3 separate regions of the Homo sapiens genome follow, and all the other regions are linked to region 1. Evidence: fine-mapped expression QTL. A gene starts in region 1. Each other region holds a variant in brackets. All regions are shown on one strand. Distances are from middle to middle. Region 1 holds the start of ROPN1L (rhophilin associated tail protein 1 like). Region 2 overlaps ROPN1L (rhophilin associated tail protein 1 like). Region 3 overlaps ANKRD33B (ankyrin repeat domain 33B).

Region 1 (2,676 bases):
GTGCTGACTCTTGTCATCATAAAAGTGAGTTTTTGTTTTACATCTGTTTATTGAAAAGGGGCAAAGAGCTCTCCTGTAAAACCAAGAGGATTTCTTTTAATGCCTCTAAGATCTGTTGACTTGTAACTTTGAGATTATGAATGTCTGTTCCTGGCAAGTGTTGGAATGTTTGTGGCAAAAAATAAACTGTGAAGCTTCATTTGCTGGACAGTTTACCCTGAGCACTCTAGGGATGATGACCTCAGTATGACCACGGTCGTTCCGGTTCTAATAAATTTAACCAGCTCTGGGTATACATAGCTCTGAGAGGACTCTCTGCAGATGAGGAACTTAGCTAAAATATTCCTCTTTGTAAAGTCATTTCACAAAGTGACTGCAACCGTGTAATTTTTTTAACATAATGTAAACACTTTTTTGCCCAATGCAATTACTTTGTTAAGTTTTAGTCTATCTTCATCATAAACACTTTTAAACAATTGAGTTGCCATTACGTTGTAGGTAAGTGAGCATTTTGCAATGATTTCGGGTCTCATAGTCGATAAATCGAAATGGTTCCTAGATAAAACACTCAAGTATAGATGTCACCAATGCTAAGGGGAAAGTTTTGCCTGATACTCTTAAGGACGCTGAGTGCCGCGTAAGGCCCCTGGTCCGGGAGGAGGGCTCTCTGGGCTCGTCTGGCTTGGGCATGTAGACCGGACAGCTCCCCGGGCCAAGGGCGCTTACCCCGCGGACCACCGCAGCACGTCGGCCGGCTGGGTGCGGATGGCAGCCTTGGTGAATTGCTTCAGGATGTCCGGCAGCTCCGGGGGAATGTGGATCTGCTGAGCGCAGAACATGGTGTCGGGAAGCGGCATCGCTCTCCGCAGAAGGGACCAGGCTGGTGAATCGCGGCGCGCTGCGAGGAAGAAGGGCGGCTGTCGGCTACGACGCGGTGGACCCGCTAGCAGCGCGGGGCTTGCGGCCAGGGCCGCCTCCCATCCCGTTCCCGAGGTTGGGGCCGGATTCGCGGGGCTCTTACCCGCTCCTCCGCGGGCTTCGGGAGAAATTCGGACCAACTGCCACTCCGACAACACCCTAGACCCTGCAGTTCCCTAGCGCCAGCCGCCACTACGGACGCGCTCGGTATCCAGGCACCCGGGACGCGAGCAGGCCCCGCCCCTGGAGCCGCGCACGCGCACGCGGCCCTGAGCGAGGCGGGGCTGCTCCCGGGCTGGACAAGGAGGTGCTGGCGTAGTCCGACTAGCAGCAGCCGCTGCTCCCCGGTGGTTCAGAGCCGCGCGAGCTGAGCGTTTCGCCTACAAAAGCATCTTCGGATCGGTTTCCCACCGCCGAATGTGAGCGGCGAACTCACGAAGGACTCCCTCTTCCCCTTGCTCTGGCTGCGTGAGGCTGAGGCTAGGGGACTCGGGCCTGCTAGGAGGGAAGCGGGTTAAGTGAAGGGGCTGATCGCCTGGGCGGCACGGGCCCCGCTGCGGGACCCGCCTGCGCCTGGGGCCGCTCCTCCAAACTTCTCGGGCTTCGAACTTCGCACATGCTGTTCCCTGGCCTAAGCCATCCCGTAGTGAACCTGAGTTCTTAATTTAAAAAGCCGCTTAGACAGTGGGCAGTTTCCAGCTAAAACACTATTGTATTTGTTTTCTTACGATAGGTTGCTTGAGCCAATGTGACTGGCTCTAGGAGGAAATAAATCACATCTGTCAAAAGAGCCTCGAGTCGAAGGATAGGAGAAACCTCGAATTTGGTGGGTGCTGACCAAGGCACCATGCAAGGGGTTAACTTTGCTTTAGGGGGTGACCTGGCTGGCTGCTGCAGTTGCCGTTAACAGCCACCGAATGGATGAGACTCCAGATCCACCTCCTCCTGCGTTCCTCAAAACAGGAAGATGGAGAACTACGGAGAGCTACTTCCCAGAGGGGCCGATGGCAAGCACTCCCTTCAAGGAAACTGGGGAAGTTGCCCGATTTTGATCGTTTCCATCCAAACACCCACCAGACAATATATACATACACATTTCTAAATTAACAGCATTGGCAAAAACTGAAAATACTTGTATTTAAAGTTGATGACAGTATGAAAACAAGAAATCCGTCCGGGCGCGGTGGGTCACGCCTGTAACCCCAGCACTGATCACAAGGTCAGGAGTTCGAGACTAGCCTGGCTAACATGGTGAAACCCCCTTCTCTACAAAAATTGGCTGGGCGTAGTGGCGCGTGCCTGTATTCCCAGCTACTTGGGAGGCTGAGGCAGGAGAATAGCTTGAGCCCGGGAGGTGGAGGTTGCCGTGAGCAGAAATGGCACCACTGCACTCCAGCCTGGGCGACAGAGTAAGACTCTGTCCCCGCCCCCCTCCACCCAAAAAAAGAAAAAAAAAAAAAGGAATCTTCTATGTTGTTGAGAGGGATGTTAATTAGTACCTTTATGGGGCAGTAATGTAACACTAAAATTTTTCGATGATCGTGCAATATTACTTCTGGGAACTTACCCTACAGAAATACTATAAAAAGTAATATGGACAAAAATCTTCACCATATAAATTGGGTAAATGTCTTTTGGAAAACAAATCATGGCCTGGCCACACAATGGTATGAAAAGATGCCCGTGTAAAGTGAAAAAAAGCATCTTGTCAAACAATCTGCATAGTATGACACCTTTATTGTGATAAATGATTCTGTG
Region 2 (2,676 bases), 21 kb before region 1:
GATTTGGAATGAGATGGAACCACCCATGTCCCAGGTGGCTCTGTCAGGCGGAGTAGCCGCATCAGAGAGCACAAAAGAAGAGAAGAGGTGCGCGGATCGGGCAGGAGAAGGGGCCCAGCATGACCCGGATGGCGGTGCAGAAGCAGAGGCTGTGGGCACCAGGAGGAGAGCTGGGGACAAAGTACTGTGTCGTCCATGTGACTGCAGACACCAGCCAGGATGGTGTCAAGAATAAGGCGGACAGAAGGGATGGCTTGGGAGCTGCGGTCTTCCACGAGGACAGGAGGGTTGGAGTGACAGTGGATGACAGAGGAAGGAGGAAAAAGAGGGACCATGGAGTCCAGAGGCTCAGCCCATGGTGGGCAGAGGGGATGTGAGTTTGAAGGAAGGAGAGGAAACGATGTGGAAGGGACAAGGAGACGAGGACGGCTGGGACAGGTGGGGCAGGGCACAGAACGCAGGCTCCACTGGCACAGGAAGGGAGGCGGAGGCTGGCGGATCACTTGAGCGCCAGCTCCTGGTGCTGTGGCCTGCATCCTAGGTGGCATCATGGCCGGTTGGAAAGGGTGGGAGGAGGGGACAAGACTCTGGGTGGTGATGACAGGCCAGGGGGCTTCTCAGGAGGCTGAGGCGAGCAGGGGTGTGTGCTGTGCCAGAAGGCGGCCCTGGGACCAGCCCCCATTGGTCCCTATCCCTGGCTTACTGTCCTCTTGGCACTGAACATGACCTACTGTCTTAAAATCTGCTTGTCTGATGTCTGTCTGCTCCACAGGGCAAAACTCCAGGGGTCAGGGCGTGACCTGTTCACTGACTACATCCCCGGCACCTGCGCCAATGCCTGGCACAGAGCAGGTGCTCAATAAACTGTACTGTGGGCAATTCGAGATGAGAGGTGTGGGGCTCAGGGACAAACCATAACCAGCACTTGGGGGGCAGTGGTCCCAAGGGGAAGTGCCGGGAAGACCTCAGGGACCCCATCTCCCTTGGGGCTGGAGCCTGGAGGACCTGGGCCCTTTCCTGCCCTTGCACCTAGAAGGCCCTTTCTTGCTGTTAACCAGGCTTACTCTGCAGCACCACAGCTCCCCGGACCCTGCGGTTGTCACCACCACCTCTGCCCACCCCACCAGCCCTGGGCTGCTCTCTCTGCCTCCCCATAGGTAGTGCAGGGTGCAGAGTCAGCACCCAATGATGGTTTAGGGAATGAACAAATGAGAACTTCCGCAGGACCCAAGAGCTTTGTTCCTTTTTACTCTGCATCTTGTCTTTAAAGGGAGGATTCATTAATCTTGTTTAAAAA[T/C]GTTACAGGTGATCAGAACACTGGACAATATATTCCAACGTTAGCTCCAAGTCATGCTTCAGAGCAGAACCAGCCTTACATCACATGCAGCCTGGTGCAAATACAACATAACATGCAATGTGTCGGGGTCATATAGCAAGTTCATCAGAGTGAGAATTGCGTGGCTGATGTCAATGACATCCTCAAGTTTCTGCAAATGATCCTGCATCCGTGGCACTACTGTCAGGAGGTCCACCAGCAGTAATCCATGTCTACGTTTCATTGTGGAGAAATGAATTCTATCTCACTTTTTAAGTTATTATTATTATTATTATTATTATTGTTGTTATTATTTGAGACGGAGTCTCGATCTTGTTGCTCAGGCTGAAGTGGAATGGCACAATCTCGGGTCACTGTAACCTCTGCCCCCCCAGGGCTCAAGAGATTCTCTTGCCTCAGCCTCCTGAGTAGCTGGGATTACAGGCACCCACCACCACACCTGGTTATTTTTTTAGTAGAGATGGAGTTTTGCCATATTGGCCAGGCTGGTCTCGAACTCCTGATCTCAAGTGATCCACCTGCCTCGGACTCCCAAAGTGCTGGGATTACAGGCGTGAGGCACCGTGCCCAGCCTCTATCTCACTTTTTAACATGCTACAATTTAGTACCACCTGACATGCTGTACATAGGAATCAGGATAGATCTGGGATAAATGAGTCTTAATGACAAGATACATTCTCTCCCTCTAAAGTCTAAAAAAACCTGAGCCTCAGCCCACATGGGTGGGAGCCACGGGAGAGGTCGGGCTCCCTTCTGAGGTGCTGCTTGCTTTCGCTGATGGCCTTTGATCTGCGGCTCCACTTACACACACCCTGAATACTATCAGGTGTGCCTAAACCTTCTGCCAAACACGGGATTCGTTGGGACAAAGTTATTGCAGACAAGGGATGTGATATTGTGAAATATATATTTGGTCTTCAACCCCCGCTCCTGGCATACAAGTAAAATCTGTGGAATCTCCAAAGTGAGTTCTTTCTTTATGCTTGTGATTGGCTGATGGCCCAGGTAGCTTCAGGATGGGGCTGGTCACTGGAGAGCCCAAGGCAGGATTAGAGGGGTGGGACTTTCAGCCCAGCCCAACCTTGGAGGTGGGGAGAGGGGCTGATGGCTTAGGTGATCACTATTGGCCAATGATTTAATCAATCACAAAGCTTCCAGGAAAAAGAAACCCTAAAAGGACAGGGCTTAGAAAGTTTCCCGGAAGCTAAACACATCGAGACCAACAGGAAGGTGAACAAGAGCTCATTTGCGGGCAGGGAGGGGATGTACCTCAACTCCATGGGGGCAAAAGCCCCCATGCTCCAGACCCTTCCAGACCTTGCCCTTTGTCTGTCTTCCTC
Region 3 (2,676 bases), 170 kb before region 1:
CACCTCCCCATAAACACAGGAATGAACCTGAGAGTTGCTCCCATTGGTCTAACAATCTACCTCAGCCCCAAGGCAATCCTGATTCGCTACTGCAGCCTTGTGTTTTGCAGGGAAGAAACCTTCCTTGCTCTTCCCCTTCAGAACTACCACGGCTCTTTTTTTTTTTTTTTTTTAGATGGAGTCTCGCTCTGTTGCCTAGGCTGGAGTGCAGTGGCACAATCTTGGCTCACTGCAATGTCCGCCTCATGGGTTCAGGCGATTCTCCTGCCCCAGCCTCCTGAGTAGCTGAGACTACAGTCATGCACCACCACGCCCATTTTTTTTTTTTTTTTTGTATTTTTTTAGTGGAGACAGGGTTTCACCATGTTGATCAGGCTGGTCTCGAGCTCCTGACCTCAAGTGATCCACCCGCCTCAGCCTCCCAAAGTCCTAGGAATATAGGCGTGAGCCCCCGTACTCAGCCTGCTGTTGCTATTCTTGATTACCAAGCTTCGTTTTAAAAGTCAAATTCAGTTCTCAGTCCTTCTAGAAGGAGTGGTGATGAAGATTGTGCAAAACACCAGACCACAGGTCACGAGAGGACGCCTAAGACGACATGCTCAGGCTGCCAGGAATAGGCATTTGTGCTCCTCCTAGAGAGGGCTAAAGGAAACTGCTGCTAGGAGGCACTCAGTAACAAGGAGCTTTAAATAAGAAGATGAACTCACAGACAGTCCAGCAGGAAAACAAGCAGCTGGAAGCTCATCGTCCAGTGTGTTTCACTGTCCCAAGTAGACTTCAGTATTCCTCAAAAATGTCCCTGACAACACTCTCTATTCTCTTCCACTTATCATATACAGTAGCATGCACAGGAGGAAGATTCACTCAAGTATGGGCGACGGTCTGTGAAGAAGCTGGTGAAAGTACACACACAAAGTCTTTTTTAATTGTTTGAACCAGGACAATTCAGTTGCACTGGATTCAGCTGCAGTACTCACTGGCGTTATTCCGTTATCTATTTCTTCCTGCCTCTTGGTAAAATTGCATTTCCCCACCCTTTCTGAGTTCTGACTTGACCATCTGGTTTGCTTTGGGTAATTAAACGTAAGTGAAATAGCAGGTGTCACTTCCAGGAGGAAGTTT[C/T]GAGAGACGGTGGACGATGTGCCACCTTCCCTTTTCTTGACTTGACTGCCCTTGAAGCTCAGAGATGCAACTGCTCCCAGACTGGGCCTCCGGAGTGAGGGCAGAGAGAGCAGAGCCCTGCCCCCTCTAGCCGGCGCACAACAGCATGAATGAGCGAGAGGCAAACCTTTGTTATTTTAAGCCACTGGGACTTGAAGTGGTTTGTTATCACAGCATCACAGTCTATTCTGAGTGTGTGTGTGTGCGTGTAACAGTAGCATACATCATCTATTCATGTGTCAGGTTGCCTACTTTCTTTTTCCCTTGGGAAGAACTGTCCTTTATTTTAAGATTATGTCTTTGATACTTGATTGGGCACAAAATGTACTTATAAAATGGGCTGGGCGTGGTGGCTCATGCCTGTAACCCCAACACTTTGGGAGGCTGAGGTGGGTGGATCACTTGAGGTCAGGAGTTCAAGACCAGCCTGGCCAACATGGTGAAATCCTGTCTCTATTAAAAATACAAAAAAATGAGCCAGGTGTAGTAACGCACACCTGTAATCGCAACTACTCAGGAGGCTGAGGCAGGAGAATGGCATGAACCTGGGAGGCGGAGCTTGCAGCGAGCTGAGATTGCGCCACTGCCCTCTAACCTGGGCGACAGAGCAAGACTCCACCTCAAAAAAAAAAAAAAAAGACAGAGTCTTGCTCTGTCGCCAGGCTGGAGTGCAGTGGCACGATCTCAGGTCACTGCAACCTCCACCTCGTGGGTTCAAGTGATTCTCCTGCCTCAGCCTCCCGAGTAGCTGGGACTACAGGCACTCGCCAACACGCCCAGCTAATTTTTGTATTTTTAGTAGAGACAGGGCTTCACCATGTTGGCCAGGATGGTCTCGATCTCTTGACCTTGTGATCCGCCCACCTTGGCCTCCCAAAGTGCTGGGATTACAGGCGTGAGCTACTGTGCCAGGCCAATATTTGTATTTTTATCTATGCTTTTCTGCTTCAAATAAAGAGATGCCTAATAAACTGTTTTAAATAAAGAAATGACATTTTATTAATAAAATAAATAAATATGTAAAATACATCAAGATAATTCCTTCCAACATGGGGTCACCTTGTAGCCCTGTAATCAGGATTTGATAAATTCAAGGTTGTCAGTAATTCAAAACAATTTCCCTTTAGACTAAATTTTGCATAAAACGTAAATCTTATTATCACTGCAAACCTCTCGCTGGGATTTATGATTTTAGATTAGTAATGTATGAAACCACTACTTTGTTCAACTGTATTCCCTCTGCCAACTTCATGTATATACCTAATCTATTCCTATCTCAGAGGCTCATCTAATTTTCCCAACACTGGGAGTGGTTTCCACGCAGTGATCATACAAGCATTATGTGATGAAAGAAAACTAAGCCTGTTAACCGTTGACCTGAAGGCAGTGACTGTCAGTAACAATTACATGTTCTTCCAACCATTGATTCACTTAATCTTTCTGAAATTAAGCTTGGAATTTTTACAACAGATGTACAAAGCTCGACAGAGAACTTAAAGGAACTAGCAAGGCTAG

Evidence for each region.
Region 2: its variant is fine-mapped to the expression of ROPN1L in whole blood (INTERVAL, PIP above 0.99).
Region 3: its variant is fine-mapped to the expression of ROPN1L in whole blood (TOPMed, PIP 0.97).

What each region holds. Positions count from the first base shown.
Region 1 is chr5:10,440,349-10,443,024 of GRCh38, reverse strand. It overlaps ROPN1L (rhophilin associated tail protein 1 like), which reads right to left and starts at 1,146. Exons shown (of 5, transcript NM_031916.5): 1 at 727-1,146. The coding sequence starts at 857. ROPN1L-AS1 (ROPN1L antisense RNA 1) reads left to right here and starts at 1,174. Exons shown (of 2, transcript NR_102746.1): 1 at 1,174-1,337; 2 at 1,652-2,290. MARCHF6 (membrane associated ring-CH-type finger 6) reads right to left here. Exons shown (of 26, transcript NM_005885.4): 26 at 2,637-2,676. RefSeq lists a silencer at 1,033-1,292.
Region 2 is chr5:10,461,845-10,464,520 of GRCh38, reverse strand. The region is part of intron 4 of ROPN1L (rhophilin associated tail protein 1 like); the gene reads right to left. It overlaps LOC124900940, which reads right to left. Exons shown (of 1, transcript XM_047417967.1): 1 at 1-2,676. The coding sequence starts at 551. Among named protein-coding and RNA genes, the nearest start is that of MIR6131, 15 kb to the left of the region's middle. The variant T/C (reference allele first, on the strand shown) is at 1,298.
Region 3 is chr5:10,605,854-10,608,529 of GRCh38, reverse strand. The region is part of intron 1 of ANKRD33B (ankyrin repeat domain 33B); the gene reads right to left. Among named protein-coding and RNA genes, the nearest start is that of ANKRD33B, 43 kb to the right of the region's middle. RefSeq lists an enhancer at 315-564 and a silencer at 1,235-1,284. The variant C/T (reference allele first, on the strand shown) is at 1,123.